Regions from separate parts of the Homo sapiens genome. Here regions 1, 3, 4, 5 and 6 are each linked to region 2. Evidence: fine-mapped expression QTL. A gene starts in region 2. Each other region holds a variant in brackets. All regions are shown on one strand. Distances are between the middles of the regions.

Region 1 (5,070 bases), 41 kb after region 2:
GGCCCAGCCCTGCATGGCTCTCCTCCACCTCCCAGGCTGGGGCGACAGTGATAGTCCGAGGGGGCCCGTCATCCCAGAGACCCCCCGTACCTCTGTGACCCTGAAGCTGGGGGCCTTTGCGCCCCTTTCCTGGGTGGAACTCTCCTCTCTGCCACAGAGTCCTTAGGGCCCTGGCAGGTCAGGGTCGTAGCTACCCGGGGTCTGTTGGGCGGGGCCAGGCATCCTCTCTGGCTCTTGTGACTTGATGACCAGAGACCACCCAGGAAGGATGATGGCTAGGGGCCTGGCCCCGCTGCCTCCCGACTGTGAGGTCTCAGTTTCCTCATCTGTATGTCCAGTAGCGGGGAGGTGAGCACACGGCACACGCCATCCTGGCTTTTGTGGGGGCCTCGGGGTTGGGGGGAGTTCCTGGCCGCCGAGGGCCCTGGCCCAGAGCTGCTGCATCTCATCTGCATGGAGCTGGTGGTTCCATTAGCAGCCAGGCCTCCGGGCAGCCCAGCTCTGCTTTCTGGCATTTTAAAAGTTTAATGCAAACCTGAGGGCTAAGCTGGTGCCACACCCAGCTCCCTGAGGCCCTGGCACATCCGGAGCTGGGCAGCCTCTACCCCCCAGGGTTAACCTCCGGGCCCCCTGCCGCCCCCTTGTCCTCCCTAGGGCCTCTTTTCTGAAGGTATAGGGTCAAAGCAAATCCTCCTGGAGCCTGCACCGTATGGGAAAGGGAAGGCGTTGCGCGGAGGTGGGCAAGGTCCACGGGGTAGCAGCCCCCAGACTGTATTCCTAACACCCCCTGTGCTCCTGCTGACTCCAGAGCACCTGGCACAGCAGGCCCGCCCCATCCCCACACCTTCTCACGCTCCAGGAGCGCCTTCGATTGACCTTTTAGGAGATGTCCTCACTTAACTAACTGCCAGGCAGTCTCCACCAGGGGCCGGGGCTCGGGGTAGAGGGACTCTCCCCTCCGCAGAACGTTTCCCGTGCCCCGCCTCTCTCCTTCCTCTACCACGTGTTTAATGGCTGTGCATTTGCTGAGGTCCAGAACCTCTTATTAGATTGGTGAAATTAAATCCTGCAAGATAATTTAATTTAATTTAATTTTTCTCGCCTCCCTTCCCCTTGCTGGTGGTGATCCTGCAGAAATTCAGTGCCGCATTCCTCTGGTTTGCTGTGCTGGGCTTAGAAAGTGCTTTACAATCTAGGGGTGGAGGGGGCAGGGTTTCTGGGGACTCTGGGCGAGGCCCTCAGACCATGGAGCTGCCTGGCTGGGCCCCAGGAAAAGGGCTCCTCCTGTTGGGCTGCCTGACTGGTCCCTGTCCCAGTCCTCTGGCCTGGGGGATGCTTTCAGGGGTCTTGTACCTGCCAGAGCCTCTGCTCCTGGGTACTTGATGCCAGGACCCAGGTGCCCTGGCCTGGCACCAACCTTGTAACCTGTGTCCTTGTGTGAATCCTGCCGGGACGACACTCAGGCAGGGGGGTCGTTCTGGAGACGCTGCCCCAACCCCTGTGTGCGCGTCTGGCTGCAGTTCCAGTGAGCCCCTGTCCTCCCCGCGGGCTCCTCTCACCCATCGGCAGGTTGCTGGGTATGGGGCTCATCATGGTGGGCAACCCCTAACCCCAGGGCAGGGCAGGCCTGGATCTCAGCCTTCCTCAAGTGAGGCTCTGCAGAGGAGAGACCCCCCACTCCGACACCACAGCCACCTGTATTTTCTTATTCCTGAGGGTGGCTTGTGGGCTCAGAGGAACCCAGCCTCCTCTGTGTGTCTGTGTGGGGTGGGGCACCGAAGGCTGGCACAGCTGCAGGGAGTGGACTCGGGCCTTGGGTCACCTGCAGAGGTTCTCCAAAGTGGGTTCTGTTCTGAAGGGCGTTTTGAGAGCAAGGGTCGTTGGTGCCACAACCCTGAGGATGGCTGGGGTAAACAAAGTTGGCGACCTCTGATTTTTTGCCTGGCTCTGCAGAACTTTCCATAAGTGAATGAGTGTGTTGAATCTCACCGAGAAGGGGAAACAATAGGAGGTGTTGCTTGGGAAGCAAAGTGGTGGGGAAACTGAGTCACTGGAGAATGTGCAGGGGAGGGTGGGGATGCCCTGATGTCTGAGAACCAGGCTTGGCCCCTGCCCTCCTGAGCAGACAGCTCTGCTCACGTCCCTGGGCCCACCTGGGCCCTCGGCCCCCTCCTCTCTGGGTGTAGCAGGAGGGTCAGCCCCCGTGTGTCTGCTTTCCTGGCCCTGGGGGCGTGAGCCAAGCCTTTATTTTATTCTTTTCTCCTAAAGTTCAGCTTTGTTCTTGAGCCTTCCAAGAAAGCAACCTAAAACCAGCTCCTGTCCGGCTCTCAGCAGGCTGGGGCGTGGGGCTGCAGCCTCACCGGTGCAGGTGGCCTGAGGACAAGCCAGCAAAAGCTCCAGTTGTCCTCGATCCCCAGGGACCACACGGCCCCATCACCTTCAAAGGGAATAATGGTCCCTTCTCTGGGAGAGCTGGTCTGTCCCCCAGCCCTGGGGCTCCAGCTCCTGAGGTGCGGACGCAGGCCGAACTGGGCTGGGCGTTAAGACGCCCACCTGGATGCCCAGCTGAGAGCTGCTCTCCTGCCCAGGTCACAGCAGGTTGCAGGCATCACCGGCTTTCTGTGTGTGAGGCTTCAGCCGCCGGCTTCACAAACATTGTTCCATTCACCCCCAGGAACCATCTGAGGGTAAATCATAACCCCAGTTCACAGCTCAGCGTCTGAGGCTGAGGTGTCCTTACAGGAAGTGGCTGGTGCCCACGGGACCTAGGATTTCAGCCTTGCCAACAGGCCAGGACCCTCTTGCTGCTGGAAGGGACAGGCTGAGAGCCTACATTGTCCCTTGCTGTCTGTGTCAGCCCTGGCTGCTGCCCTACCCAGCCCAGGTACTTGGGACCCCCAGGAACCGGTGCGCCGTGCTGGCCTCTGCCTGTCCCCTCTTTTGGTACAAAAGCCCCTGTATGACTCAGACATCCCTACCCCCC[C/T]GTCCTTGGGGCGAAGTTGCCCACAACAGAAGCCACGGGCTCTCTGGGAGGCTCCTGGTGGTGGGCGCAGTGGGTCTGTGAAGGGAGCTGTCTAGGGGCCTCTGCCCTCTGTGCTGTGTTGCACAGGCCCCTCTCTTGTACCCCCCTGCCCGGGTTGTGTCCAGCATTCAGCCCTTGCCGAGCTTATGAGGGCACTTGGCAGACTTCCTGGATGAGGCAGAAACTAAGTGGGGACCTGAGGGTGGAGGGTGTGGCGGGGAGGGTGACAGCTGGGCCCTGTGTCTCCTGGCCCGGTGGAGCCCAGCTCATCAGCATGGCCGAGTGGGGACGTTTCTGTAAACGCCCCCATCCCAGTCTCCTTGAGTTGTCACCAGCCCCTTGTAGGAGGCAGAAAACACTAGGCACGAAGCCACCTCCACGGGCCTTTGCCGGCAGCTTCCCCGCACCTGGATCTCTTCCCGTCCCCATTCAGTGGCTTTTTGTCTGGTCTGGAGAAGCTGAGCCCATGGTGTGTGACTAGGGAGGAGCCAGATGGCCCTCTCTCTGGTCTCCGGATGCCTCAGAGGGGCGCCGGGAGTGAGGGGCAGGGCTGTGTCGCCTTGCCTCCCACCAGGCCTGTTCGGGCCTCCTCCGCATCCTGCTGCCAGGGTTACCCCGAGGGTGGTGGAGGCAGCTGGCCAAGCAGGAGGGGGCTCACCTCAAGGCCTCGAGCCTGGACCCTGCCCCTTCTTTTGGGTGGAATGTGCTCTTCCTGGGGGTCACAGCCAGTGGCAGGGAAACTGAGGCTGGGCAGTCCAGAGGTCAGCCTCAGGGCCCCACGCAGAGAGGCTGGTATGAGCCCAGGATGAAGTACACATTCTCTGGAGGGGTCCCGGGGCCACCACAAGTCCTGCACAGCAGCAGCCCCTTCCCAGGAAAAGGCTCAATAACAGCCAGACGCTGCAGACCCCCTTGGGCAGGAGGTGCAGCCTGTGTGGCCGCAGCCAGGAGTGTGCGGGAGGAGCGAGGCGGCCGCTTTGCCCTCTGCTGGGACCTCTCAGGCGGGGCTGCCCCTTCCGGCTCCTGGTTGCCCGGCCACAAAGTCGCTCTTTTCTTAAAGTGCCAGGAGGGCGCTGGGAGTGGGATGGGGAGGGGTGCTGGGGCTGGACTCCCGGGCCTGCCGCCTGGGCAGAGGACACAGCTCTAAGGCCCCCAGGACCTGGGGTGCCGCCTCACCCACCCACTGCCTGCCGTTTCTGTGCCTCTCTTCACCCCCTGCTGTACCTCCCCTCCCCTTCCCTGGCTCCCCTAGCTGTCCTGACCCCCTCACCCCCTCCCCCTGGCGCCTCTGCCCATTCCCCACCCTCGCTGGAGGAGTTCAGCTCTGCCAGCTCTGCAGACTGTTTGGAATAGTTTAAATGCTTTGACACTGGGGCTGTCCTGGAAGGCCGGGAGGCAGTTTACTGGGTAATTCATATGCAAAACTGCACCATAAATTTCCAGGCTGTCTCAGTTGCCGTGGCACCGGGAAGCATTTCTCCACTACTGTACAGTATTTCTGCCATCTTTGTTTGCATTGCAGTGAGTCATCAAAAGTCTGTCTCGTACCAGCACCCGGGGCCGCGCATTCCTCTGGCACCAACACTCCACTGTTTTTAAAGCCGGGGCTGGGAGCTGGCATTTACTTCGGCTCCCAAATCAAAGGCGGCTATTCATTCCCGAGCCGCCGGAACGTTCGTCTGCATCCGGCCCCTTCATTGAGATGCGGTGCGCTGCCCGGGAGGGCCGGCCTGGGTGCAGCTGAGCTGCGGCCGCGAGCCCAGCGCCCAGGCGCTCTGCCCTCCTCCTCCTCCTCCTCCTCCACCATCTCCTCCTCCTCCTCCTCCTCCTCCTCCTCCTCCTTGCCGGCTCCCTGCGCCCTCCCCGCCCCAGGGCTCCCGCTCCGTTTGCTGCATTCGCGGAGCAGCTGGGCAGGCGGGCTGCGTGCGGGGAGCCTGTCCTGCCAGGCGGAGCGGGCAGTGCCGGCCGGCGGCCGCAGCGGCTGAAGGTAGGTCTTCCCGACCGGCCGGCAACTTCTCCGCAGCGGGGGCACTGCGGGCCGCCCCCGG
Region 2 (5,070 bases):
GCCTGCCTAACATGGTGAAACCCCGTCTCTACTAAAAATACAAAAATTAGCTGGGCGTGGTGGCACGTGCCGATAATGCCAGCTACTCGGGAGGCTGAGGCAGGAGAATCGCTTGAACCCGGGAGGCAGAGGTTACAGTGAGCTGAGATCGCGCCACTGCACCCCAGCCTGGGCAACAGTGTGAGACTCGGACTCAAAAAAAAAAAAAAAAAAAGGAATAAACAGAGCTCACCTCATGGTACTGTTGTGAACGTTAAATGCGGTAAGGTGTACATACTCAGTAGCACGGGCCTGGAATTCAGTAGGGATGCAGGGTTTGCTTTAAAAGGTGCAAATATATGTTGGTGTACATACGTATAGGCACACAGAAATTGGGGAATTGATTTCTGCTTATCCGCTATCTTCTAAACACTTTTCAATGCTTTCCAAATATCCTTCACTAAGGAAGAATGTCTTTAATATTTAGAAAATAAAAGTGATTAAAACAATCATTCCCATCCCTGGAGGGCCACGGGTCCTAGTGGGTAGCCCCTTGAGGCCTGCCCCAGGGCTGGAAGCAGCTCCAGGCATCTGTCTCTGGGATTCACGATTCTCAGGGGCTTGGGGTAGCTATGCTCACTGAGAGATCCTGCAGAGATTGTAAAGTCAGGCCTAGGAAGCACCAGAACCCTGAGGCTGCTGAGCTCATGCCCTGGGTGTAGGAGGCACTCAGAACCCTCCTACCCCACCTCCTTCCCACAGTAGACTGCGGGGCGGGTTTGGAAGTGGCAGTGGTGGGGGGAGGGGGGTTGGGGTGTGGGACCTGGGACTGCATTTAGGTCTAGATGGGACTCTGTGGGGAGAGCCCAGAGTCCCTGCGGGGTTCCATACTCACCCCCATACAAGGCAAGCCAGGGAGTGAAGTGTGTGTGTGTGTGTGTGTGTGTGTTCTGGACGCAGAGCTGAATAGAACCTAAAGTTGGGGTCAAGGGCCAGTCTGTGGCCAAGATCAAGGGCCTAGCTTGAGGTTGGGGTGACAAGAACCTGGCCAAGCTTCTGATGATTTGTCCAGGGAATGACCTTGGCTGACTGTGCCAGAAGGGCTGTAGCCCCAGGTTTCTGATCCCCAGAGCCCCAAAGGCGTTCTCTGGGATGCTGGTGGCCATCTCCTTCTCAACCCTTCTCCCAGCGCCCTCGCTCGGGACCACTGAGGCGGTATCACTCCATTCTCCTGCAAGGACCCTTGAGCGTGCTGTGGGAGTGAGGCTGGCTTAGCCTCTGAGGACCACTGCAGCCTGTCCTGACCTCAGGCCCCAGGTTAGGGGGCAGCTGAGGAGGGGTCTCTGGGTCTTTCCGGGTGTGTGGCCGTTTTATTTCCGTGCCCTTGTTTTAAAACTGCACCTCTGTCCTCAGGAGCGTGGCCTTGGGCAGATGGAGAGCTGCGTGGCCGGTGCCGGAATGACTGTCAACGCCCCAGTGCGCCCGGATCACACCAGGCCTGAAGGCAGCGCCAGGCCCAGTCCAGGCAGCTTGCAGTTCCCGGGCCGCAGGGACGGGCGCCGGAGCCCCGCAGACGTTCGCCCAAGGGCGCTCCCGTATCCTCGTCTTTCACGGCCCGCCTGAGCGTCCAGGGCGGCTGCGGATGCGCGCACTTCCCCCGCCCGGATCCCGGAGGCTGCACCGTGCGGACGCGACTGCCGCGGGCAGGGCGCGCGCCGGGGGCGGGGTAGGGGGGCCCGGGGGCTCTCCCGGGCTTAGCGAGTCCGGCCGAGGCCGGGGCCCGGGGAGGGCGGAGGGCGGCGCTCCAGGTCCTTTCCCGACCCGGCCGCCGAGCTCCGTCCTCTGCGCCGCGGCGTCCGGCTCCCGCCGGGTGTCCCGCGCAGGGTCGACCGCCGGCAGCTCCGGAAGGAGGACGCGCGAGGGGCGAGGAGCTGCCGCCTCCCCTCCCCAGCGCTCGGGGTTCCCCACGCCCCGCCGGCCCCCACTGGGGACCCTCCCGGCCCCCGGACCCCAGCCCCGACCCCGGGAGCCCACCTGGCTGCCAGTGCGCGCGCGCGCGCGGCCGGCGCGCTGTCCCTTTAACGGCCCGCGGGCACCTCCCCCGCCGCCGCCCCGCCCCCGCCGCGGTGCGGCCGCCGGTGCTGGGCGAGGTCGGAGAAAGTCCATGGGAGCCGGAGCGCCGGGACGCCAAGCACTTCCTGCCGCGGGCGGCGCGCCGCAGCTGCCCAGGCCGGACCGGGCCGGGCGCCCGCAGGTACCGCCAACTTGGCGCGCGCGGCCGCCCCCGGGTTACGCCGCCGGGCGGGGTCGTCCCACGGGCCGGGCCCGCACTTCCCGCAAACTCCGCGGCCGCCCAACTTGGCGCGAGCCCCCTGCCGCAGTGCCGGCCGCGCGGGGCGGGTGCGGCCGAGTTCCGCGCCGGCCCGGGCGTGCGCGCGGGAACCGGCCTCGGGAGCCCGCGGAGGGGGGCCGGGCGGGGCCGGGGGGTCCCGGCGGAGGCGCCCGCGACCCCGGGCCGGGACGCCGCGCCGCGCGTTCGGGGAGACCCCGGCTCCGGGCGTCCCGGGGCGCTCCCCGCCGCCTGCTGGGTTTCCCTGGATTTCTGGGGACCCGCGCGGCCTCCCCAGGGACCCGACTGGCCGATCCAGCCCTCCGGGTGGGGAAGCCGGGGCAGGACTGGCCCGGGGCCAGGGCGGAGGTACCCACCCCTCCCGGCGCATCTGCGCAGCTGCCTGGCCCAGCCGGGCCCGCGCCTCGCCCTCCCGGTCCAGGTGGGCCCGTTCGTGGGTCGTCACCGCCTCCCGCGCCTCCCCCACTCGGGCCCCAGCCTGGGGAGAAACTGGGGTCCGGCCGCAGGGGGAGGGGGCTCTGCCTCTTGCCAGCTTCTGTGCCTCTGCGGAGCTGAGGTCGGGGGGCCCCAGCTCCTTCTCTAAGAAACTCAGCGGAGCCCGGGGCCCGCCGCGCACCCCGCACGGCCAGGGCGGACCGAGGCCTTCCGACGGAGTTTCCTGCTTCTCTTGCTGGGATCGTGTGGGGTCGGAGGTCAGAGGTCACCTCCCAGCCCCTCTGCCAGGCTCTGGGGGAAGTTTGGTCTTGGACTCTCGTCGTGGAGCCGCTTAAACCTGTGGGTCTGAAGGCCGCGAGGCCGGGTCCCTGGAGTTGGCCTCCCAGGCCGTTCCACTCCCTCCCCCAACCCCCGCGCGGGGCCTCCGGATTGGAGGTGTTTCACCCACGTGCTGGTGGGCCCGTCTCCCTGGGCCGCTGGGTGCCCTGAGCTGTGTTCTCTGCTGCGCGTTCCTTCCTGTGTGTGGCGGGGGTGCTGACCCGGGGGTGCCCAAGGCAGCCCGGACTCCCATCCCGTGGAGCTGCCTCCGGGAGCGCGTGCACCTTGGTGTTCCCGCCCGCCAGCGCGGCCGCACTCTCCTGCCAGAGTCCGTGTCCCTCCAGGTCGCCCCTTCTTCTCACCCACCCCTCTTTTCGTCTGGCAGGCTCCTGACCTCCTTCCCTCCTGTTCTCCAGTGGGACACTCAGCTCAGCATTCTGCAGGGTGTTTTAGCCTGTAGCACCCCCCAGCAGGGGCGCCTAGAGTTAGGTCAGGGTTCAGGCAGCCCCCGCCCCACCCGCCACCTCTCAGCCACCCACCCCTTCTTCTCCCGGCCACCGTTGGAGCACCCCTCTGGTCCTCTGTGGGGCCTTTCCCAGCCCCTCCCTTAAAGAGGCCTCTTGGCGTTTTCCCCTGGGGTCACTGTTGGGTGGTAGCTGGGCCAGAGTCCAAGGGGAGGAAATAAAAGGAGCTGCCACCCAAGGTGGTGGCCCCCTGTCCTTTCGGCAAAGCCACTTGGAATGGGCACAGAGAGTGGAACAAGATATCACTTGTCACTTCTTAGTGGCCAGGGATCCTTTCGCAGTGGTCACACCCAGGGCTCGATGGTGCTGGCCCTGGCCTGGCGGGAAGGCGGGGAGGAGCCACCCGGGAGATCTCCTGCTGGGAGCAGTGGGAGCTGGGCTGCTACAGGCTGCGAGAACAGGCTCTGTTCTTTACCACCGGCTGCTGGAAGGGTTCGCAGGGCTGCTCTGCCCTGGGCAGGGGGCTAGTGGTGACTTTTAAAAAATTCTTCAATCCTCCCTTTGTTTTCCAATTAAAGCATGAGGCTGCATTATTCATGAAACAACAGTGACGATCTTGGTGCTGAGCGGTTCTTCCAGGCCTGCACTCCTCTTGGCCTCTGCCTCCGGAGTCCTGCTTTCCTGGTTTGTGGGCAGTGTGGTCTCCCAGGCCCGAGGGATGGAATGGGGAACCAAGGTGTTGTCCTTTTCGGGATGTTGAGTTCCCAAGGTTCCACCTTGTGCCCCTTCCTCTGAGGTCTGTGCCTCTGACCTGTGTCCCTGGAACGCACAGGGCACCGAGTGCCCAGTGGCCCCAGCCACCGTCAGTGGGGCAGAGCCCATGTTCCTTCCTCAGCCAGCCCTGTTCTAGCCACCTCCACACACTGTCCCCAGGCTGCCTCTCTGCATCTCACAGCCCCTTGGGGTCACTCCATCCCCTTTGCAGGGTCACGCAGTGGGTTCCGAGATCCAGTTGGACTGTGGCCGGTGGGATGAGGGTCGGAGTCCACAGGGGGGCAGCAGGTGGCACCCCTTACCCCAGGATACACCAGCATGTTTCTCCGGAGAACCAAGGCCTTCTACAGACCCCAGTGTAACGAACACATTTGGGAACTTGACTATGGGGCCCCCTGACTCTGCTGCTCCTCCGGCCCAGTCCACCTTCACCTTGGTAGCACATGTCCCTGCCTCAGTGGCCCAGGCTGACCAGCCTCCCATTGTGGTTCTGAGGACAAGGTAGGCCACCTTCCACTTCAGGGTGACATTTCTGGCCTGGGCTGAGGAAACCTGGGGCTGGGCTTCCAGGCGTGGCTCGAAGGAGAAGCAAAGCCCTGTGGTGTGAGGCCGTGGAGCGCCCTCCAAGGCAGGAGAGAAGTAGCGCTAGCCCGTCTGGACGCTGGACCTGAGCCGCCGTCTGATGCATGTGGGCAGGTGCGGGAGTTTGTGAGGTCTGACTGGGTCTGGTCTCACTGGGGGCTGATGAGG
Region 3 (5,070 bases), 87 kb after region 2:
GTTGCTCACCTCTGTCCCTCCAGAACTCGGCTTCCCCATCTTCACTTGCAAAACAAGTGCAGCCCTGCGCCCATCAGCACCCCCTCCGGTGTGCACACAGGCCAGTGAGCGGTGGCCGACCAGCGCACCCCACTCCCCCAACCTCCACAACCCATCAAGCGGAGGCCGCCTCCGCTAGGGGAGGACCATGTGCTGCACCCTGGCCTGGGGACCTACAGGGTGTGGGTTAGACGCATTCCCACTGGGCGGCTCCTTTCTGCCCCGAAGCCCACCCCTGTGGCGAGGCCCTAGGAGACCTCCCGTGGGGCCGCCTCTACAGACAGCACTCAGCCTCCTGGGCTGCCTCCAGCCAGGCCCAGCACATGCCTGCCCTCCAGAAAAATACGTTGCTTTCCAGAAGGAGGTGGGGGACCATGGGCAGGCACTGTGGACGCTAACCTCGGCCCCTCCACCCATTCCTCAGGGCCCACGTCCAGGGGGACCAAGACCTGCATTCCTAGGGCTGCAGGTGGCTCAGTGGTGCAGAGGCATCCAGACCTTCTGCTGAACTAAGAACCACCCAGCCTAGAGGGAGCCTTTCTCTGCCTCTTCCTCCCCTGTCTTGGGCACAGGTGGGGTTGGAGCCCCCATGGGGCCCGCTGGGAACCTGGACCAAGCCTTCCTCGGAGATGGGAGGAAGCCGCGGGGTGGAGCAGGGGCAGGTAGGTGAGGTTGAGCTGCACTTGAGTTCCCTCTGGAGTTTCCTTCATCTGCCCCACACCCAAATTTGCACTTTAATTTGACCATCCCTGGGGGCCTGGCTGCTGACAGAAGGGCTCTCTCTGCCCTCCACTCCAAAGTGGGTGCCCCCCCACCCTTGGCCAGGACAGGGAGGGAGCCGCTGGCTGCTGCCGGAGGTGGTGGCTGCACAGAGGACGCCTGACTGCTGTTCAGGCCCGCACAATGTCCCGTGCCCCTTCCTCACTCGTTTGTAATCGCCGTCTGTTTTGTTCTGGGTAAGGAAGGCAAGAGCTATAGATAAAACTTAAATAATAATAATTTAATGTGAATGGGTTCTGAGCTCTCCCTGCGCCCCGGGCGGGCCAGGCCGAGCATTTTGCACTAATGTGTCCCACGGTGGGCGTGAGTCGGGAGTGTCTGTGGACGTGCGTGGCTGCTGAGCGGACCTGCTGTGTGCTCCCTCCACGTCCTGAATGTACCGTGGGGCGGGGGCGGCGGCCCGGGCTCAGAGGGGCCTTCCAGAGTGCCTTAGCATCCTTTGATCATTTTTCCCAAGGAAACCAATTAAGAAAGCCGGACCCTTCCCTCCTTTGTTTACAAGATGACTAATTCTAGAATCCGGGGTTGTCCTGTCCTGTGAGTGTGACCCTGACTCATCCAGACCCTGTAGAGAGAGACGAGCCACTCAGTATTTATGAGATGTCTGCACCTTTATCCCTAAGCCTGACTATTAGCAATACGCATATCCTATATAGAATCTATTACAGAGCTACGTTATCTCCACACCTTTTGAGGAGGACAGAAGGGACTGGACCGTGTTGGAGCTGCCGCCTGGCAGGTGGTGGGCCTGGGATCTAGCCGCCTCTCCTGCCCTGCCTTCCTCTTCCCCAAGGGGATGGGCCCAGGAGGCAGCTGGGTTGCATGGAGAGGTCCAGGAGGGACCGGAGGTGTGACAGATACTGTGAGCCCGGCGGGCCGCGCCTGGCTGGGTGCCTCGGTACTTGAATTCTGTCTTGTTTTCCGCATTGTGTCTGTCCACCCGAGTTCTCTGTCGTCACTTAACTTTGCATTGGATTTGGTTGTTGTACTTTGCCCCTGAATGTGGACAAAGCTGTGGGCAAGAGGTCAGCAGGACCCGCCTGGGGGTGCCGGCGTTGGTGACTGCGGGTCGGGGCTCCTAGAACATAGGAGCCGGCTGCCTGGCCTCCTTTCTCCTCCAGGAAGAGTCATTCTTTGGCATTTGTGTTTAGAGCCAGGAGGAAGGCGGAAGGTAGGGAGGGAGGGCTGGTCCCCCTCTGAGGGGGCTCTAGTGCCTGACCCTGACCTGTCCTCATTCGACAGCTGAAACTGTTAAGCGCTGGCCCAGTCCCCCCACCCCACCCAGCCGTGTACTGCCTGGGCTCCCCTCAAAGGGAAATTTTTA[T/C]GGAAACATCTTGGCAGCAAGTGGAAAAAGATCTATGGCCCATGAACCAACTGAAAACTCCAAGAACCCTCTGTCTGCCTCTGCCAGCAGCGAGTCCTAAGCGCAGAATCCAGAGCTCGTAGCTGTCCTCAGCTGTAACTACTGTTTCAGAATGTTGCTGCTGCATACTTTTGTCATGTCAGCCAGCCAGCTCCGTGGGTGAGAGTGTGCGTGTGCGCGTGTCTGTGTGTGTGTGCGTGTCTGTGTGTGCACGTCTGTGCGTCTGTGTGTGCGCGTCTGTGCATGTGTGTGTCTGTGCGTGTGTGCGTCTGTGTGTGTGCGTCTGTGTGCGCGTGTGTGTGCGCGTCTGTGTGTATGTGTGCACGCGCGTCTGTGTGCACGTGCGTGTCTCTGCACGCGTGTCTGTGTATGTGTGCACGCGTGTGTCTGTGTGTGTGCACGCGCGTGCACGTCACCACCGGAGCATTTAGGGTTTGGTACAAGATGGTTCTAAAATGGCAAAGGTTTTTCGTGTTTGTTTGTTTTGTTTCTTTGGAAAAAGAAAAGGAAAGGAAAATCATGCAGAATCGCAAGCATTCAGACTGGACGACCGGCTCGTATTCCGATCAGTCGCTTCCATTGTTAGCATCGTACACGATTGTGATTTTTATGTCAAAAGAAGCCAAAACTTGCAATACTATTTTTAGCAGACAAAAAAAAGAACTAAGTATAAAATGTATAAATATTTTTGACTTGAAGATTTGGATGGCACTGGGTGCAAGTAGAGCATCCATCCTTCGGATGGAATGTTTGGAAAAAAGAGACTTTTAAAAAGGAGACGGTTGTTTTAAAGAGTCTGTTTAGGGGTTAAAGTACTGTAACTCACGACTGTTAAAAAATAAATTTTCCTGTGCTGTAAAGGAAGGTTTCACAGTACCACTGAGTTAGATTTCAGCCACAGATGCTTAGCTTTTTTTTTTTGTCTTTTTTTTAAGGAGGAAGCCTTTGTTTTGTTTTCCTGAGCCCTCACTCTGTTTTTGTGCTGTTACTCGGTAGAGTCAAGACTGTTACTTTTTAGCCATGGCTGACATTGTATCAATAACTAAAACTGAAACATTCAAAAGCGAACAGGGAAACCGAGGGCTTCAAGCGTGCTCAGAGCCGTTTCAGACAGTGGAAATCCATGACAAACAAAAGGATGTGATCATTAATTGTAAAGCGCTTTGTAAAATTCACATTTACAAAATAATAAAGTCAGTTCAAACCTAAGTTTCCTGGACTTGGCTTGGCCCTGTGGGGTTTGGGGGAGACACAGAGAAGCCAAGCTTGGGCTATTGAAGGCAGGGGTGGCCAATGGTCCCCCAGGGGCACCCTCAGGACCCCGTCCCTGTTAGCGGCGTCCCCAGGCCAGCTGTCCACACAACAGGGCAGGGATCTGGCTGTGGGGTTCAAGGTCACCTGACCCATCTCTTGCTCTCCCCAGTGTTTTACAAGGGAAGGGGCAGGTGGGTAGGATGTCTGCAGGTACTAGTGTGCCTGCTAGAGGGGGGCCCTGTCCGGACCCGCAGGCAACCTGCCAGGGTCGGGGGGTCTCCTTTTCGGGACCTTGGTTTTATTGTCTGAGAAGTGGGGCAGCCCCTTCATCTGCCTCACCTGCCACCCAAAAGGTGCGTGGCTCCTTCTTTCCCTCCCCCTCCCCCACCCCCTCCCGGGCCATGTCTGCCCCCAGGTGAACAGAGAGACAAGTGCAGGTGGGCAGAGCTGGGCCCGCGGGGTTGGCCTTCTCTCCAGCTCTGGGGCTGGTGTCCTGGGGTTCAGGCTGCGTGGCCAGCCCCATTCCCTTTTGCTCCTCTGGCGTATCCACAAGGACAGGCTGAGTGCTTTGCAATCATGTGTCCCCCAGACCTGTCCTGCCGGGCCCTTGATGGGTGCCTCCTACGTCTGGAAGCACTTTCCTCTGGATACCTTCCTGGCAGGCTCCTCACTTCCTGCGGTCCTGTGAGGGTCTCGTCCAGGGGACCACCCCTGATCACCTTACGGGCACCCCTCCCTGGCCTCTCTTCCCCTTTCACAGGGTTCATGGCACCCGCCGTACTGGAGGGAGGTGGTGGATTTATTGGGCAGGGCTTCATGGCCATGTTCCCAGAAGAGGGTCCTCTGGAGCCAGCATAGGGCAGCCCCTGATTGTCTCAAATGGATGGATGTGGTTTCCATATGGGCCCCCTGGATGGAAGGGCCCATGTGGCAAGGGGATGGCGCTTGAGGTCACCCTGAGCCATTGCCTCCTACAGGAGCCACATCACCACACTGTCCCCACCAGGAATGCCCAAGGGGTCTGTTCCCCAGTGGGGGCCAGGGAACACGGAGTGTTCCAGTCCCCATCCCACCACCAAGCCCAGCCCCAGGCCTCCAGGGTAAGTGTATCCGACTCAACTTCCTGGAGAAGGAGCAGAGCCCCCAGCTCTCAGGGCCAGCACCTGCCTGGCTGGTGGGGAGCTTGGTGAGGACAGACAGCTTGGATGCACACCTGCAAGACCCCAAATGCCGCACCCAGGTGGGTCCCAGGCCCCCTCAGCAGCTAGGACTGCTGAGGTCTGGGTGGCCCAGTTAGGGGAGGGAGGGTCGTGGAGAATGCCCCACCTTGGCCCAGGAATCCTGCCACTCTGGGAGGGGGCCTACCCAGCCCAGTCCTCCACCAAGTCGGCCCTGGTTTTCCAAGGAGGAGGGGGAGCCAGGCACCTGCTGCCCATCCCATCCCTTGTCCCCCATTCCCCGTCCCCCATCCTTCCCACGGCCGCCTCGCCCTTGCAGCCCCGACAGAAACCGGCTGAGGCATCAGGAGCCTTGCATGGGCCTCCCACCCCCTTTGTCAGTTTGGACAGGAGGAGGGCGCTGTGTCAGCAGGACCCACGGCTTTGTCCCCGGCCCTTTGTGATTCTGCACAAAAG
Region 4 (5,070 bases), 20 kb after region 2:
TCTTTCCATACTCTGACCACACGCCCTTTGCTGAAGATACATATGTTGCAAAGGTCTGTCCTTCTCGGCTTGTTTTTTCTCTTAGTGTTGGTCTTTATTTTTCAATATTTTAATGAAGCACGACTTATCAACAATGTCCTTTGTGCCCTGTTAGGGTTTTTGTTGTTTGTTTGTTTGTTTTGCCAAAGGCCATGTTTCTCTTCTGCTTTTTTTGTTTTGTTTTGTTTTTTGAGACGGAGTCTTGCTCTGTCGCCCAGGCTGGAGTGCAATGGCGCAATCTTGGCTCACTGCAACCTCCACCTCCGGGTTCAAGCAATTCTCCTGCCTCAGCCTCCCAAGTGGCTGGGACTACAGGCGCCCGCCACCACGCCCAGCTAATTTTTGTTTGTTTTTTTCTCTGTCACCCAGGCTGGAGTGTAGTGGCGCAATCTCGGCTCACTGCAACCTCCACCTCCGGGTTCAAGCGATTCTCCTGCCTCAGCCTCCCAAGTGGCTGGGACTACAGGCGCCCGCCACCACACCCGGCTATTTTATTTATTTATTTATTTATTTTTGAGACAGAGTCTCGCTCTGTCGCCCAGGCTGGAGTGCAGTGGCGCGATCTCGGCTCACTGCAGGCCCTGCCTCCTGGGTTCACGCCATTCTCCGCCTAGTCCCAAGTAGCTGGGACTACAGGCGCCCGCCACCACGCCCGGCTAATTTTTTTTGTATTTTTAGTAGAGAAGGGGTTTCACCGTGTTAGCCAGGATGGTCTCGATCTCCTGACCTCATGATCCACCCACCTCAGCCTCCCAAAGTGCTGAGATTACAGGCATGAGCCACCACCAGGCCAATACATTTTTTAAAAATTGTAGTCAAATATACACAACATGAAATTCACCATTTTAACCATTTTTTAAGCGCACAGTTCAGTGGCAGTAAGAACATTCCCATGGCTGTCAACCCTCACCTCTGTTTGCAGAACGTTTTCATCATCCCTGACCGAAACTGCACCCATTGAACACCAACTCCCCTCCGCAGTCCCCCAGCCCCTGGAAACCTCCGTTCTGCTTCCTGTCTCTGAACTGTCCTGCTCTGTGCCCGCGTGTGAGTGGAACCCCGTGGCGTTGTCTGTGTGTGCCTGGTGGCTTTCACTCGGCATAGTGTCTTTGAGGTTCACCGGGCTGGGGGGTGCATCAGAATTTCATTTCATTTTTGTCGTGGTATGGGCAGGAAACCTGGCTCAGAGAACATTTGAGGAACTGGGTGTTTAGAGTCACTGAGGAGAGGAGGCTGGATAGATTGTTGGGTTAGTTACAGCACTTCTTCGAGTTCCGCAGGGCCGGGAAACGCTGCCCCTTGGGGTTCTCTTTGCTACTGGATGGAAATCATTTGCTTTTCTTTTGGTTGCATATAGGAGACTTAGGATGTCACGGGGTATGGGGTGTCATCACTACTGAGTTGCAAATCAGGCAGAGGCCGCGAAGGGTGCCTGTTTACTTTATTTCCAAGTTTTCGATGACTGTTCTTTGCAGGATCTCTTCGTGACCACACGTAACCTTCATGCAGGGCTTTGAGAAGCGGGTGTCTCGGAGTTTTGTCACAGATGCAGCAGAGGAGTGGGCAGCAGCCCCAGGGCCACAGGCACTGAGCACATGGAGGGCTGCGGGGCTGCTCCTGGGCGCTTTGTAGGAAAGCCTGGGTTCCGTTTTCAGCAGCCTCTCACTCCAGAGGAGATGACTTTGCTCTTATTGAATCTTGTGTCCCGAGCCTCAGAGCCCAAACCCAAGACCCCTGTCTCTGAGGTTTCACCGACAGGGCCTGTGGGTGTTGGGTGGGTCTCCTCCCCTGGGCGCAGTCTGCACGGGGGTGTCCTCCCCGCGTGTGGAAGACCGGGCACAGGGAGCTCAGGACAGCATCAGCACAGGTTTCCTGAGGGGGCCCTGCAGGCTCTGCTCCCGCAGGACCTGCGACCCCGAACCCTGAATGTGGGCCTATGCCCGATAAAAGAAGATGCGTCCTCAGGCACGACAGCCTGGGCTTGGCCCCAGCTGCGCGATCTGTTTGAGAAACTGTACCGCGATGTAGGAGACGGCAGGTTCACACGGAGCCGCTGCCGACGTCTACGAAAGGGAAACAGGCTCGGGGAGACATTCGCCTCCGAGTTCCAAGCCCGGGGAGAGTGGACACCCTGTAATGAGCGCTTCAGTCAGTTCGCAGCAGCCAGCCTCGGGGGAGCTAGGGAGGGCTTTCCCCCCAAGTATCCCAGCCAGGCGGCCGCAGCCAGCTCTCCCTCATCCCGGTCAGTGCCGGACTGGACCAGAATGTGTCCTGGAGTCCTGGCCACCTCCCTGGTGCCATGTGACAGCTGTCTGAGGCCAAGTCTGTGTGTGGGGGGCGTTGCAGCCTGCTGCACCCACACCTGGGGCTCCCCACTTCCTGGCCTGCCGCTTTGAGGGAGCAGAAGCCGCCATTGAGGACAAGGTGGAATCGGCTCATTTCACGCAGAACCAAGAGCGTCGGCCTGGAGGAGGTCACGTCCTCTACTGGGCCTCACGTCACTGTTTCGTGAGGATCCGATTGCTGTTCCCCCAGCCCCATACGCGACAGTGAGTGGGGGACAGAGCTCCCGGGCTCCCAGAAGGAGGCCGTGCGAGAACCCATTCCCGCCAGCATCCCCCGGCCCTGCCGACTCCGCCTCGGCTGGGAAGGCCACGCTTCCTGCCGCTCTGTGTGAGGTGTAGACGCCGAGGCTGAGTGATACATCCCCGAGCCCCGCAGGTGAGCTGGGAACAGAATGTGACCACCGACATGGGCCCTCTGGGAGTCACAGGGGATGGTCGTTCGGAAGGTCCAGCTTCATCTGTCGGTGCAGTTTAGGGTGTGACTTGGTGGAGGCACGGTCAGTATTGAGTCAATGTTGAACCAGAGATAGGTTCCTTGAGGAAGGCAGGCAGCCTTGCTGTGACAGAACGAGGAATGGTTTTGACCT[G/C]TCCGTCTGTGTTAATTGAAGGGATGATACATAATTTTAAATAACCTCAGAAATTATTAACATCTTTATAAAGAACCTTAATGTTTCTGGAATGAAGAACTTTGTTTTCTTTTTCTTCTTTTTTCTTTTTTTTTTTGAGACGGAGTCTTGCTCTGTCGCCCGGGCTGGAGTGCAGTGGCACAACCTCGGCTCACTGCAAGCTCCGCCTCCCGGGTTCACTCCATTCTCCTGCCTCAGCCTCCCGAGTAGCTGGGACTACAGGCGCCCACCACCATGCCCGGCTAATTTTTTTGTATTTTATTAGTAGAGACGGGGTTTCACCGTGTTAGCCAGGATGGTCTGGATCTCCTGACCTCGTGATCTGCCCTCCTCGGCCTCCCAAAGTGCTGGGATTACAGGCATGAGCCACCGCGCCTGGCCATGCCTGGCTAATTTTTTAACAAATTATTTGTGGAGACTATAATCTTACCATCTCTCCTGGTCTCTCACTCCTGGACTCAAGTGATCCTTCTGCTTCAGCCTCCCAAAGTGCTGGGATTCCAGGCATGAGCCACTGTGCCCGGCCAAGATCTTAATTTTTTTAAAAAAATAGTCAAGGACATGACGGAGTCTGTGCAAATCCCTGTTGGTTACTTCGGTGAGAGCCAGGGTCTGCTTTCAGGGCAGAGGGAAGGATCACCGCTTACTGCTGACCCTGCTTCTGGGCAGACCAGATACTCCAAGACCAGGCAGCATTTTAGCAGACAGAACACCAAATCCTGCTTGGACGCAAATGCAGTACTTGGCAGTAGAGGATGCATAAGCACCTTTAAAACAATTAGGAATAGACCCATTGAAACTGAGCAAATTGTGCCAAAATTGTAGCACACACGCAGCTGCTTTTCATACTCCTTATTTCCAGGTATTATGAACCGAGGGAAATCAAGTCGACTTTCTGCAAACATTCTTGGGTTGTCCATACATCCACTGGAGTCTTTTGTCTTTTCCTGTTCTCTTTGGCATTCGAGACCAATTGTGCATTTCACTTTGAGACAAGCGCCTCTTCTCCCCTGATGGGCAGGACTATACTCTGATACAGCTGGATCCACGCTCACACCCCCTGTCCACTGCAGCTCCTACTGGGGTCCTCATTTTTTATTTTTTATTAAAAATTTTTTTTTTGAGACAGTCTTGCTCTGTCACCCAGGCTGGAGTGCAGCGGTAAGACCACAGCTCACTGCAGCCTTCACCTCCTAGGCTCAAGCGATCCTCCCACCTCAGTCTCCCAAGTAGCTGGGACCACAGGTGCGCTCCACCATGCCCAGCTAGTTTATTTTTATTTTTTGTACAGACAGAGTCTCCCTATGTTGCCTAGGCTGGTTTTGGACTCTTGGGCTCAAGTGATCCTCCCACCCCAGCCTCCCGTGTAGCTGAGACTACAAGCACGTGCCACCATACCCGGCCAATTAATTCTTTATGTAGCCTAGATATTAGTCCTTTGTTAAATGTGTTCCTGGCATGTTTTTTCTACCAGCCTGTGTCTTGTCTTTTCATCCCATTACCTGTGTCTTGTGCTGAGCAAAAGTTTTTAAATTTTGATAAAGTCCAGTTTATCAGTTTTTTTCTTTTATGGAAGAACTCTCTGCCTAGCCCCGGATTCTACAAATATTTTATTCTCTTGTGTGTTTTTTTCTTTCCCCTCTAGTTTTATGTTTAAGTCTCCAATTCATTTTGGGGTTATTTATTTATTTATTTATTTGAGACGGAGTTTCACTCTTGTTGCCCAGGCTGGAGTGCAATGGCATGATCTAGGCTCACCACAGCCTCCGCCTCCTGAGTTCAAGTGGTTCTCCTGCCTCAGCCTCCCAAGTAGCTGGGATTATAGGCATGTACCACATTCAGCTAATTTTTTGTATTTTTAGTAGAAACAGGGTTTCTCCATGTTGGTCAGGCTGGTCTTGAACTCCTGACCTCAGGTGATCCGCCCGCCTCGGCATCCCAAAGTGCTGGGATTACAGGCATAAGCCACCACACCCAGCCTTTTTTTTCTTTTCTTTTCTTTTTTGAGACAGAGTCTTGCCCTGTTGTGCAGGCTGGATTGCAGTGGTGTGATCTTGGCT
Region 5 (5,070 bases), 94 kb after region 2:
CCAGGGCTGGCTGAGGTGTTTGGCTGGCTCCCGGCTCCAGCAGGTAAGATGAGGCCACCTGGGGAGGTCACTATGTGTCCCTCTGGCCCCCGTAGTCGGGCAGGTTCTGGAATGGGGCTCCCTGAGCACCAGCGCCGGATGCCTACCCTGGCACCAGGAGGCAGCTCTCCCTGGCACGGGAGCTTCAGGGTGCCCCCCCCCCCCTTCCAAGCCAAGCCCTTGAGGAGCCAGCTCCCCGGTGCCCACCCCTCACTCCCCTCAGCCCCTCTTCCTGGAGTCCTCCTGAGGGCAAAACTAGGCTCCCTCTCAAGGAAGCAGCTGCGGCCCCGCTGTGGGCTGCACTCGGGAGAGAAGGAGGGATGGTCACATGGGACAGTCAGGAGGCAGAGGGACAGAGGGACAGCCTCCGAGGCCCTGGACACGTGTCTTCATCCCCCGCTCCTCCCTCCCCTCCAGCTGGGAGGCTCCAGCAGCCCAGGAATGTCCGCAGCTCTGGCTGGCCACTGGACCTGGTTCCCCAGCTGTCCCATGTCCCTCATCAGTCGGCCAGGACCCTTCCTGGAGACCAGGCACTTCCCAGTGACGAAGGGGCTCTGGGACAGACAAGACCCGGTTCAAGGTTGGGCTTGGGGCCTGTGAGCTGGTGAGAGGGGACGTGTCTTTCCAGGTGCCTCAGCCCAGGGGTGGCCCTGGAACTGGGATCCCAGCCCAGGGTTGAGGTCTCCTTCCTACCACACACACACATTGAGGTGCCACCTGTCCCTTCACGTCACCCCACCCGCACCACGAGGGGCTTCCTCGGCTCTCCTCCAAGGAGGGATGGATTGGGCTGTTTGGCCCTGTTCCTCAGGGAACAGGGTGACATGGAGGTGGCTCTTTGGGAAGGTTGACAGTAGCAGTGGCAAGAGCCTGCACAGTGGCCAGTTGAAGCTCAGGACACCTGTGAGGGAGTCAGCACCAAAGCTGGGTTGGGCACTGGGCTCAGCCTGGCCATCCCAAAGGCAAGGAATCCTCCCTGGGGCGCCCTCAGACCAGCCTGGCTGCAGCCAGGCAGGTGGATCGGGGTCCCTGGGGAGAAGCACTCGGGTGGCCCCAAAGACCCTGCAGGATACCACGGTCACGGCAGCGCCCCTCCCCACTGCCCAGAGGTGCAGCCACCCAGAGCCCATGAACGGATGACAACCCACAGAAAAGGTCCACCCACCAAGTGCAACACAATGGGCCCTAAAACAGGGATGCACCCCAAGGGCACGAGGCTCGGTGAGAGGAGCCAGGCTGACAACTCCCTCCTGCAAGCGTCCACTTCGTGAGGTGCCCAGTCACCAAAATCACAGAGACGGTACGTAGGATGGAGGGGCCAGGCTGTGGGTGCAGGATCCAGTGTTTCGTGGGGGCGGAGCTTCAGTTGGGGAAGATGAAGCCTTCTGCAGACGGAGGGTGATGGCTGCAGGACAAGGGGACTGTGCTCAGTGCCACTGAGTCGTGCACTGAAAAATGGCCAAAATGGTGGGTTTAGAACATACGTATATGGCCGAGTGCGGTGACTCACGCCTGTAATCCCAGCACTTTGGGAGGCCGAGGCGGGCGAATCACCTGAGGTCAGTAGTTCGAGACCATCCTGGCTAACACGGTGAAACTCCATCTCTACTAAAAATACAAAAATTAGCTGGGCGTGGTGGTGCGCACCTGCAATCCCAGCTACTCGGGAGGCTGAGGCAGGAGAATCACTTGAACCCAGGAGGCGGAGCTTGCAGTGAGCCGAGATCATGCCACTGCACTCCAGCCTGGGCGACAGAGCGAGACTCCGTCTCAAAAACAAAACAAAACAAAAACAAAAAAACATATACAGTACGTGTATATATTTAAAGACAGGGTGGGGAAGAGAAACTGATCCCCCGGGGAAAGGCTGCTGAGAGGACCAGGCGGGGCAGGGCGTGCGGCTCGTGGCCTGTGACAAGCCTCAG[G/A]CCCCGTGCAGGGATGCCAGGAGCAGCTGCAGAGGGAGGCCTTTCCCGGCACGTTCTGTGTTTCCCAGCAGTGGCTTTGGGTTCACTCAGGGCCTGCAGGAGAGGAGAGGGTTAAGCAGAGGCGCCCTCAGCCCAGCCAACCTGACTGCAACCCTGAGGCAGTTCCCGCACCCAGGAGGGGCCAGTGTCCGTGAACGTGAACGGGCCAAGCCGGCCAACCTTAGGGCTGCTTTAGAAGCTGAAGCCACGTTCTTGCTGACAGCGGGCGAGGTGACCCGGCCAGGGCTGGGGGCTGGGGGTGAGTCTGAGAGAGATGGAGGCTCCTTGCTCTAAACAAGTAGCTCAGGGAGGACCCAAGCCCCTTTCTTTCTGGAGGCCTCTGCCATGAGTCTTTCCCTGGTAGCCTGGGTCGGACGAGCTTGGAGGAAGGGTTCACCCCAGGCCGCCCCCACCAGGGCAGGGAGCCCCCCACCCCCTGAAACCCATCACTTCCCCAGCAGGGGCCTGCACCTGTCTCCCATGCCAGCCCTGCCTTGTTGATGTCCTCAGAATCCTGCCCCTTCCCCCAGGGGCCTCACTGCTGCCCACCCCACTCCTTTCCCTCCCCACCGCTGAAGCTTTGACCAAGCAGCACCCCTTTTCTGTGGGAGCAAAAACCACCATGCAGCAAAAACCACCCCCAAACAACACTGGAACACCCCTCTGATGCCACCTTTTCATGAGATCGCCTTGTTCTGTGCCTCAGTTTCCCCACATGTTCAGCCAAGGGCATGAACTCCATCAGGCTCCTCACATTTACTGTGCCTCCAACCCCGCCCCCCCCCCCGCCCCGGGCATCTTGTTAGTGCACAGATCTGGCTCTGGGGGTCTGGCATGGGCCTGGACTCTGCATTCAACATCCTGGCCACACAGAGTGAGGCCATAAGGGCATCCCTCCTGCCCAGAGAGGACGGCCCACACTCTCTGGTGGAGAGACCTGGCTTTTTCCTCATACAGCACAGACTCGTGTGCAGAGACTACACGGACCCAGGTGCGGACAGCCTCACACAACAATTGCACACTCACTGCATCCAGCTTTGTGGTCTGCAGGCCTCGTCCAGATCGGGGTGCTCTGCGCATCTTTGCTCAGCTTCCCTTTGCTGGGCTCATGGGAACGCCGGGGTGGAGGTGTCCTCACGGCCCGCCCGAGAGGCATCCGCGGTCCTCGCCGGAGATGTGCCTGTATGCCGCCCCCTTACCAACACCGGGGCTTACGAATGGTTTCCCTTTGTACCAGATGGATGAGTGTTAAAAAAAATCTTCCTCTGACCTGGATGGTAGCAAATCTGTCAGCGGTCACACTCCCACTTCCGCAGCCATCCTGTACCTGTCCCGGCCACATGCACGCTTCTCCTTGCTCACCACGGAGCCCTGTACCGGGGCCTGGAGGCCTTCCCAGCTCACTGGGCCTCCGTGGTTGTCACATTGCTGTGGGGTGGGCATTGGCCCAAGAGAAGTTCTGAGTTTCTCTATTTATTTATTTATTTATTTATTTATTTATTTATTTATTTATTTTTGAGACAGAGTCTCACTCTGTTGCCCAGGCTGGAGTGCAGTGGCTTGATCTTGGCTCACTGCAAGCTCTGCCTCCTGGGTTCACGCCATTCTCCTGCCTCAGCCTCCCAAGTAGCTGGGACTACAGGCGCCCGCCACCACACCCGGCGAATTTTTTGTATTTTTAGTAGAGACGGGGTTTCACTGTGTTAGCCAGGATGGTCTCGATCTCCTGACTTCGTGATCTGCCTGCCTCGGCCTCCCAAAGTGCTGGGATTACAGGCGTGAGCCACCGTGCCCGGCCCAAAGTTCGGTGTTTTAATATCCACTCATCTTGTACCCTCCTCCGAGATGCCAGATATACTTGCTTGCGTTTTTCTCTTTGATGCTGGCGCCTGAGATCTGGGTCTGCTGATAATGGGGTTCTGGAAGCCTTGGCTGCTCAGATTGCTGAGCAGGGGAGGACAAAGCACCCTGGGGCCCTTCCTCTAGGGAACACCCCTCCCTGGGGCATGGCTGGGCCGCCCCTGCCTGGCTGCTGACAGTGTGGGCCTCACTGCCTCCCAGCCTTTGCCTTGCTTATGGTATTTGCACTAAAACCATTTCCCGGCCGGTGGCTCATGCCTGTAATCCCAGCACTTTGGGAGGCCGAGGCGGGCGAATCACTTGAGGTCAGGAGTTTGAGACCAGCCATGGTGAAACCCCATCTCTACCAAAGATACAAAATTAGCCGGGCATGGTTAGGCAACCGGGAGGAGGAGGCTATAGTAAGCCAAGATCACACCACTGCACTCCAGCCTTTGGCCACAGAGTAAGACTCCATCAAAAAATAAAAATAAAAATAAAACCATTTTCCATCCACCCAGAGCTGCCCACAGTGGAGGGGTGGGAAGAGAGAGGGTCCCACTGCCTGGGGGAGGGGCTGCTCTAGGCCCATCTCAGTGTCACCAGAGGCCAAATCACCAACAGCCGCTGCAGAGGCCTTGTGGGGCACCAGCAGTCTGCTCACCCCAGAACAGCCAGGCATGACCACAGAGTTGGAGCTTGGTGACTGGATTCTGCATCAGAAGGGACACGGGGCCCATGTCACAGGTCCCAGGGCTGGGGCAGGTCCCTGGGCAGCACCTGTCTGTTCTGACTTCAGTTTCTGGAATCAGAGTCTTGAGGCTGTGAGAACTGGCAGCCACAGCCGAGGGCCAGCAGGGGCATCCCACGCTTTTTGTGAGCGAGGCCTGGGGAGCCCTGCTCCCGGCTGGCATCTCACCTGGCGTGTGAGCGCACCTCCAGTGCCAACCTAGCCCAGGTGCTGGCCAGGGGGCAGGAAGCTGATGACAGTGTCTCTCCTCCATCGTAACAGTGGCTGTGGCAGAAAGAAGCCCCCAGGCCCAAGCACAGAGGGGCTGGCAGGATTCTGGAGCCGGCCTGGAGGCGCCTGTGCCTCCCTGGAGCGGCAGGGCTGGCAGCCTTGGTTCCTGACAGCGCCAGGGGAACCCACAGAGGCTCCTCCTGCTCCTCCTGGTTCTGTGTGTGCCCACCCCACCGGGCTCCAGCTCCTTGCACCCAGGGGAGGAGG
Region 6 (5,070 bases), 720 kb before region 2:
GACCCTAAATAAATAAAATCAATTTCAGAATCTTTTTTTTCTCCTGCTGGTCCCTTGATCTTGGGTTTTCTTTTTTTCTGCTTAACTTCAGAATCTTAAATGTTGGCTGCAATAAGCTAAGTGATTCTCCTGGAAAACCTTTAGGATTCATCCAAGAAACGCTAAGAAGCCCTGTACTTACCTGTACTTAACCTCATGGTAAACCTGCTCTTTTACTAAACGGGATGTGAACACGACCTCTGTTCTAAGCTTGTTTTAGAAGATACAATGCAGAAAACACAGAGCTCTATTTGAGGCCCTGAGCCTTTCTTACCCTGATTCAATTTAACTCCTTCACATTCCTGCAGCTTTCCTGCAAAATATGGAATAATTTTCTTACATTTTCATACCAAGAAGAGCTTATGATTTATCTCAGATGCATGAAGGTTTAACTCCTAACCAGGCCCTCTCACAGTGCCAGCAGCATCTCCTGGGCCCATTACAAGGGCCCAGCCACCTCCCCACCCTGACAGCCTGTGCTGCAGCTGGTGTCAGCCACACCTTGCTCCTCTCCCACTCTGCACCCTGCAAAGATTTCCCATCCTCAGCAGCTTCAGACTACTTGGTGTCGAGGCAGGTAAAAACCAAGGTGACCCCAAGAAAATGGCTGCTCCCCCAAAGGAGGCAGAAGGAGGAAGTGAAGATGAGGAAATGTCAGAAGATGAAGAAGATGACAGCTGTGGAGAAGAGACTGTCACACCTCAGGAGAAAGGCAAGAAGGCTGCTGCAACCCCAGCCAAGAAGGTGACAGTTTCCCGAACAAAAAAGGCTGCAGGTGCCACACCCACCAAGAAAGCAACTGTCACTCCAGGCAAAGCAGTCGCCACACCTGCCAAGAAGGGAGCCATAGCAGGCAAAGCACTGGCAGCAGCTCCTGGCAAGAAGGGACACCCCAGCCAAGGGGGCAAAGAACGGCAAGAACGCCAAGAAGGAAGACAGCGATGAGGAGGAGGATGACTCTGAACCAGCAGTGATGAAGGCAGCAGCGGGTGCCCCTGCCTCAGGGGATGAGGACGAGGACGATGAGGACGATGCTGAGGAAGATGGCTCTGAAGCAGCACCTATGGAAACAACACCAGCCAAAGGAAAGAAAGCTTCTACAAATGCTGTTCCTGGGAAAGCCAAGAGGATGGCTGGGAATGAAGATGAAGAGGATGATGAGGACAAGGACGAGGGTGACGATGATGAAGAGGATGAAGTGATGAAGACGACAAAGAGGAGGAAGGGTCTGTCAAAGAAGCACCTGGAAAATGAAGGAAATGACCAAACAGCAGCTTCTGAAGCCAAGAAACACAAAGTGGAGAGTGAGAAGCACAGAACCAACTGTGCCTTTTTTTTTTTTTTAAGACAGGGTCTCACTCTCTCGCCCAGGTTGGACTGCAGTGGCGCAATCTTGGCTCACTGCAACCTTCACCTGCCAGGCTCAAGTGATTCTCCTGCTTCAGCCTCCTGAGTAGCTGGGATTACAGGCGTGTACCACTACCACCCGGCTAATTTTTGTATTTTTAGTAGAGACGGGGTTTCACCATGTTGGCCAGGCTGGAACGTCTTTCAATCTTTGTTGGAAACCTGAACTTTAACAAGTCTGCTCCTGAGTTAAAAACTAGTATCCATGGGCCAGGCCTGGTGGCTCACGCCTGTAATCCCAGCACTTTGGGAGGCTGAGGTGGACAGATCACAAGGTCAGGAGTTTGAGACCAGCCTGGCCAACATAATGAAACCCTGTCTCTACTAAAAATACAAAAATTAGCCGGGCGTAGTGGTGCGTGCCTGTAGTCCCAGCTACTGGGGAGGCTGAGGCAGGAGAATCACTTGAACCCGGGAGGTGGAAGCTGCAGTGAGCACCATTGCACTCCAGCCTGGGTAACAGAGCAAGACCCTGTCTCGAAAAAGAAAGAAAAACAAAAACTAGTATCCATGATATTTTTGCTAAAAATGATCTTGCTGTTGTGGATGTCAGAATGGGTATGACAAGGAAATCTGACTATGTGGATTTTCAAGCTGCTGAAGACCTGGAAAGAGCCTTGGAACTCGCTGGTTTGAAAGACTTTGGCAATGAAATTAAACTAGAGAAACCAAAAGGAAAAGACAGTAAGAAAGAGCAAGATGTGAGAATACTTTTGGCTACAAATCTCCCTTACAAAGTCACTCAGGATGAATTACAAGTGTTTTGGCTGGGCGCAGTGGCGCAGTGGCTCACACCTGTAATCCCAGCACTTTGGGAGGCCAAGGCAGGCAGATCACGAGGTCAGGAGATCAAGACCATCCTGGCTAACACGGTGAAACCCTGTCTCTACTAAAAATACAAAAAATTAGCTGGGTGTGGTGACGGGTGCCTGTAGTCCCAGCTACTCGGGAGGCTGAGGCAGGAAAATGGCGCAAACTTGGGAGGTGGAGCTTGCAGTGAGCTGAGATCACGGCCACTGCACTCCAGCCTGGGCAACAGAGCGAGACTCTGGCTCAAAAAACAAAAAAGTGTTTGAAGATGCTGTGGAGATTGGATTAGTCAGCAAGGATGGGAAGAGTAAAGGGACTGCTTATATTGAGGTTAAGACAGAAGCTAATGCAGAGAAAACTTCT[G/A]AAGAAACGCAGGGAACAGAGATGGATGGCCGATCTATTTCCCTGCACTATCATGGAGAGAAAGGTCTAAATCAAGACTAGAGAGACCACTTGGAGGGGTGAATCAAAAACTCTGGTTTAAGCAACCTCTCCTACAGTGCAACAGAAGAAACTCTTCAGAAAGAATCTGAGACAAGGCAACTTTTATCAAAGTGCCCCAGAACCAAAATGGCAAATCTAAAGGGTGTGCATGCACTTACAGTTCGCTTCATTTGAAGATGATAAAGCAGCTTTAAATTCCTGTAATAAAAGGGAAACTGGGGGCAGGGCAATCAGGCTGGAGTTGCAAGGACCACCTGATGCCAGGAGCCAGCCATCTAAAACTGTCTGTCAAAGGCCTGTCTGAGGACACCACTGAAGAGGCTTTAGTCATTCGACAGCTTTGTTGGGCAAGGGTAGTCACCAACCAGGAAACCGGGTGCCCCAAAGGCTTTGGCTCTGTAGATGGCAACAGTGAGGAGGATGCCAAAAGCGCCAAGGAGGCCGCGGAAGATGGTGAAATTGAGGGAAACAAAGGTAACTTGGACTGGGCCAAACCTAAGGGCGAAGGTGGCTTTGGGGTTGTGATGGAGGTAGAGGAAGCTTTGGAGGATGAGGTGGTGGCAGAAGCCAGGAAGGCTTTGGTGGGCGAGGCAGCTTCTGGGGAGGCAGAGGTGACCACAAGCCACAAGGAAAGAAGACAAAGTTTGAACGGCTTCTGTCCCTTTGTCTTTCCCTCTCCCATTTGAAAGAAAGGACGCTGGGGTTTTTATTCCGTTACCTGATCAATGACAGAGCTCTCTGAGGACATTCCAAGACAGTCTACAGTCCTGTGGTCTCCTTGGAAATTCGTATAGACAACATTTCAAGGGTAATACCTTCCTTGTTTGTTTTGACTGGATATTCATATAAACTTTTCTTTCTTTTCTTTTTTTTTTAAGACGAAGTCTCACTCTGTCGCCCAGGCTGGAGCGCAGTGGTGTGATCTTGGCTCACGGCAACCTCTGCCTCCCGGGTTCAAGCGATTCTCCTGCCTCAGCCTCCCGAGTAGCTGGGATTACAGGCATACGCCACCACACCTGGCTAATTTTCATATTTTCAGTAGAGATGAGTTTCATCATGTTGGCCAGGTTGGTCTTGAACTCCTGACCTCATGTAATCCGCCCACCTCAGCCTCCCAAAGTGCTGGGATTACAGGTGTGAGCCACCGTGCCCGGCCTGCTAAGTCCCATTTCTAAATTCGCACCAGTGTCTACTCAGAGAGGACTCTGGTTGTCCGAGCTCCTGGGCCAGGCCAGTATCAGAGCTGCACAATAATGCTCACTCAGGAGCAACTCCACAGAAAAATTCTGCACCAAATACAACTGATATTTTGTGTCCAGTCACAGTAGAAAGGGACAGACCAACTCAGGCAACAATCTTTCTTCCAAATAATTTCAAATAATTTTCCTAATAATTTTATATGCAAATAATTTCAAAATTGTGTAAACCAAAATTAAAATCCCAAGGCCTGCCAACCATCTGAATGGACTTCCTCTTCTAGGCCAGGGCCATCCAAATTTCATCTGAAAGACTGGTTCAGGCCATTATGGGAAGAGGGGAGTCAGACAGGCCTCATTGTGGCCTCCTCCCTTCTGGAATTCAGGAAAAGCTCACCAGCATTTAACATCAACACTGACTTTAAGTCTGATAAGAAACATAATCTGGCCAGGCGCGGTGGCTCACGCCTGTAATCCCAGCACTTTGGGAGGCCAAGGGGTTCGGACTGCTTGAGTAGAGGGGTCTGAGCCCAGCTGGGCAACGTGGTGAAACCCTGTCTCTCTAAAAAATACCAAAATTAGCTGGGTGTGGTGGTGCAATTGTTTTTTTTTTTTTTTTTGAGACAGGGTCTGACTCTGTCACCCAGGCTGGAGTGCAGTGGCACAATCTCAGCTCACTGTAACTTCTGCCACTTGGGCTCAAGCGATTCTCCCGCCTCAGCCTCCTGAGTAGCTGGGATTACAGGCACCCACCATCACACCCGGTTAATTTTTATAGTTTTAGTAGAGACGGGGTTTCGACATGTTGGCCAGGCTGGTCTTGAACTCCTGGCCTCAGGTTGTCCGCCTGCCTCGGCCTCTCAATGTGCTGAGATTACAGGCGTGAGCCACCGCGCCCGGCAAAAAAACACAATTTTTTTAAACTACCTCCGACCTGGAAGCCCCCACTTCAAGTTGTCCCGCCTTTGTGGACCAAATCAACATATATCTTAAATGTATTTGATTACTGTCTCATGTCTAAAATGTATAAAACCAAGCTGTGCCCTCCACCTTGGGCACATGTCCTCAGGGTCACCTGAGGGCTATGTCACGAGCCATGGTCACTCATATTCAGCTCAAAAATAAATCTCTTCAAATATTTGACAGAGTTTGACTTTTTCATCCATTATGGTCC

What was found. PIP is the estimated chance that this variant, and not a neighbour inherited with it, causes the effect.
Region 1: its variant is fine-mapped to the expression of NACC2 in whole blood (TOPMed, PIP above 0.99).
Region 3: its variant is fine-mapped to the expression of NACC2 in whole blood (INTERVAL, PIP above 0.99).
Region 4: its variant is fine-mapped to the expression of NACC2 in whole blood (TOPMed, PIP above 0.99).
Region 5: its variant is fine-mapped to the expression of NACC2 in whole blood (TOPMed, PIP above 0.99).
Region 6: its variant is fine-mapped to the expression of NACC2 in lung (GTEx, PIP 0.95).

Annotation. Positions count from the first base shown.
Region 1 is chr9:136,051,671-136,056,740 of GRCh38, reverse strand. All of the region lies in intron 1 of NACC2 (NACC family member 2), which reads left to right. Among named protein-coding and RNA genes, the nearest start is that of NACC2, 41 kb to the left of the region's middle. RefSeq lists enhancers at 1-307, 308-908, 5,020-5,070. The variant C/T (reference allele first, on the strand shown) is at 2,984.
Region 2 is chr9:136,092,352-136,097,421 of GRCh38, reverse strand. NACC2 (NACC family member 2) reads left to right here and starts at 2,133. Exons shown (of 6, transcript NM_144653.5): 1 at 2,133-2,233. RefSeq lists silencers at 1,671-1,770, 2,091-2,220 and an enhancer at 3,426-4,117.
Region 3 is chr9:136,004,858-136,009,927 of GRCh38, reverse strand. NACC2 (NACC family member 2) reads left to right here. Exons shown (of 6, transcript NM_144653.5): 6 at 1-3,391. Among named protein-coding and RNA genes, the nearest start is that of UBAC1, 46 kb to the right of the region's middle. The variant T/C (reference allele first, on the strand shown) is at 2,144.
Region 4 is chr9:136,072,490-136,077,559 of GRCh38, reverse strand. All of the region lies in intron 1 of NACC2 (NACC family member 2), which reads left to right. Among named protein-coding and RNA genes, the nearest start is that of NACC2, 20 kb to the left of the region's middle. RefSeq lists an enhancer at 2,174-2,924. The variant G/C (reference allele first, on the strand shown) is at 2,972.
Region 5 is chr9:135,998,453-136,003,522 of GRCh38, reverse strand. No RefSeq gene overlaps it. Among named protein-coding and RNA genes, the nearest start is that of UBAC1, 40 kb to the right of the region's middle. The variant G/A (reference allele first, on the strand shown) is at 1,965.
Region 6 is chr9:136,811,064-136,816,133 of GRCh38, reverse strand. The region is part of intron 1 of RABL6 (RAB, member RAS oncogene family like 6); the gene reads right to left. It also overlaps the pseudogene NCLP1. Among named protein-coding and RNA genes, the nearest start is that of CCDC183-AS1, 4.8 kb to the right of the region's middle. The variant G/A (reference allele first, on the strand shown) is at 2,620.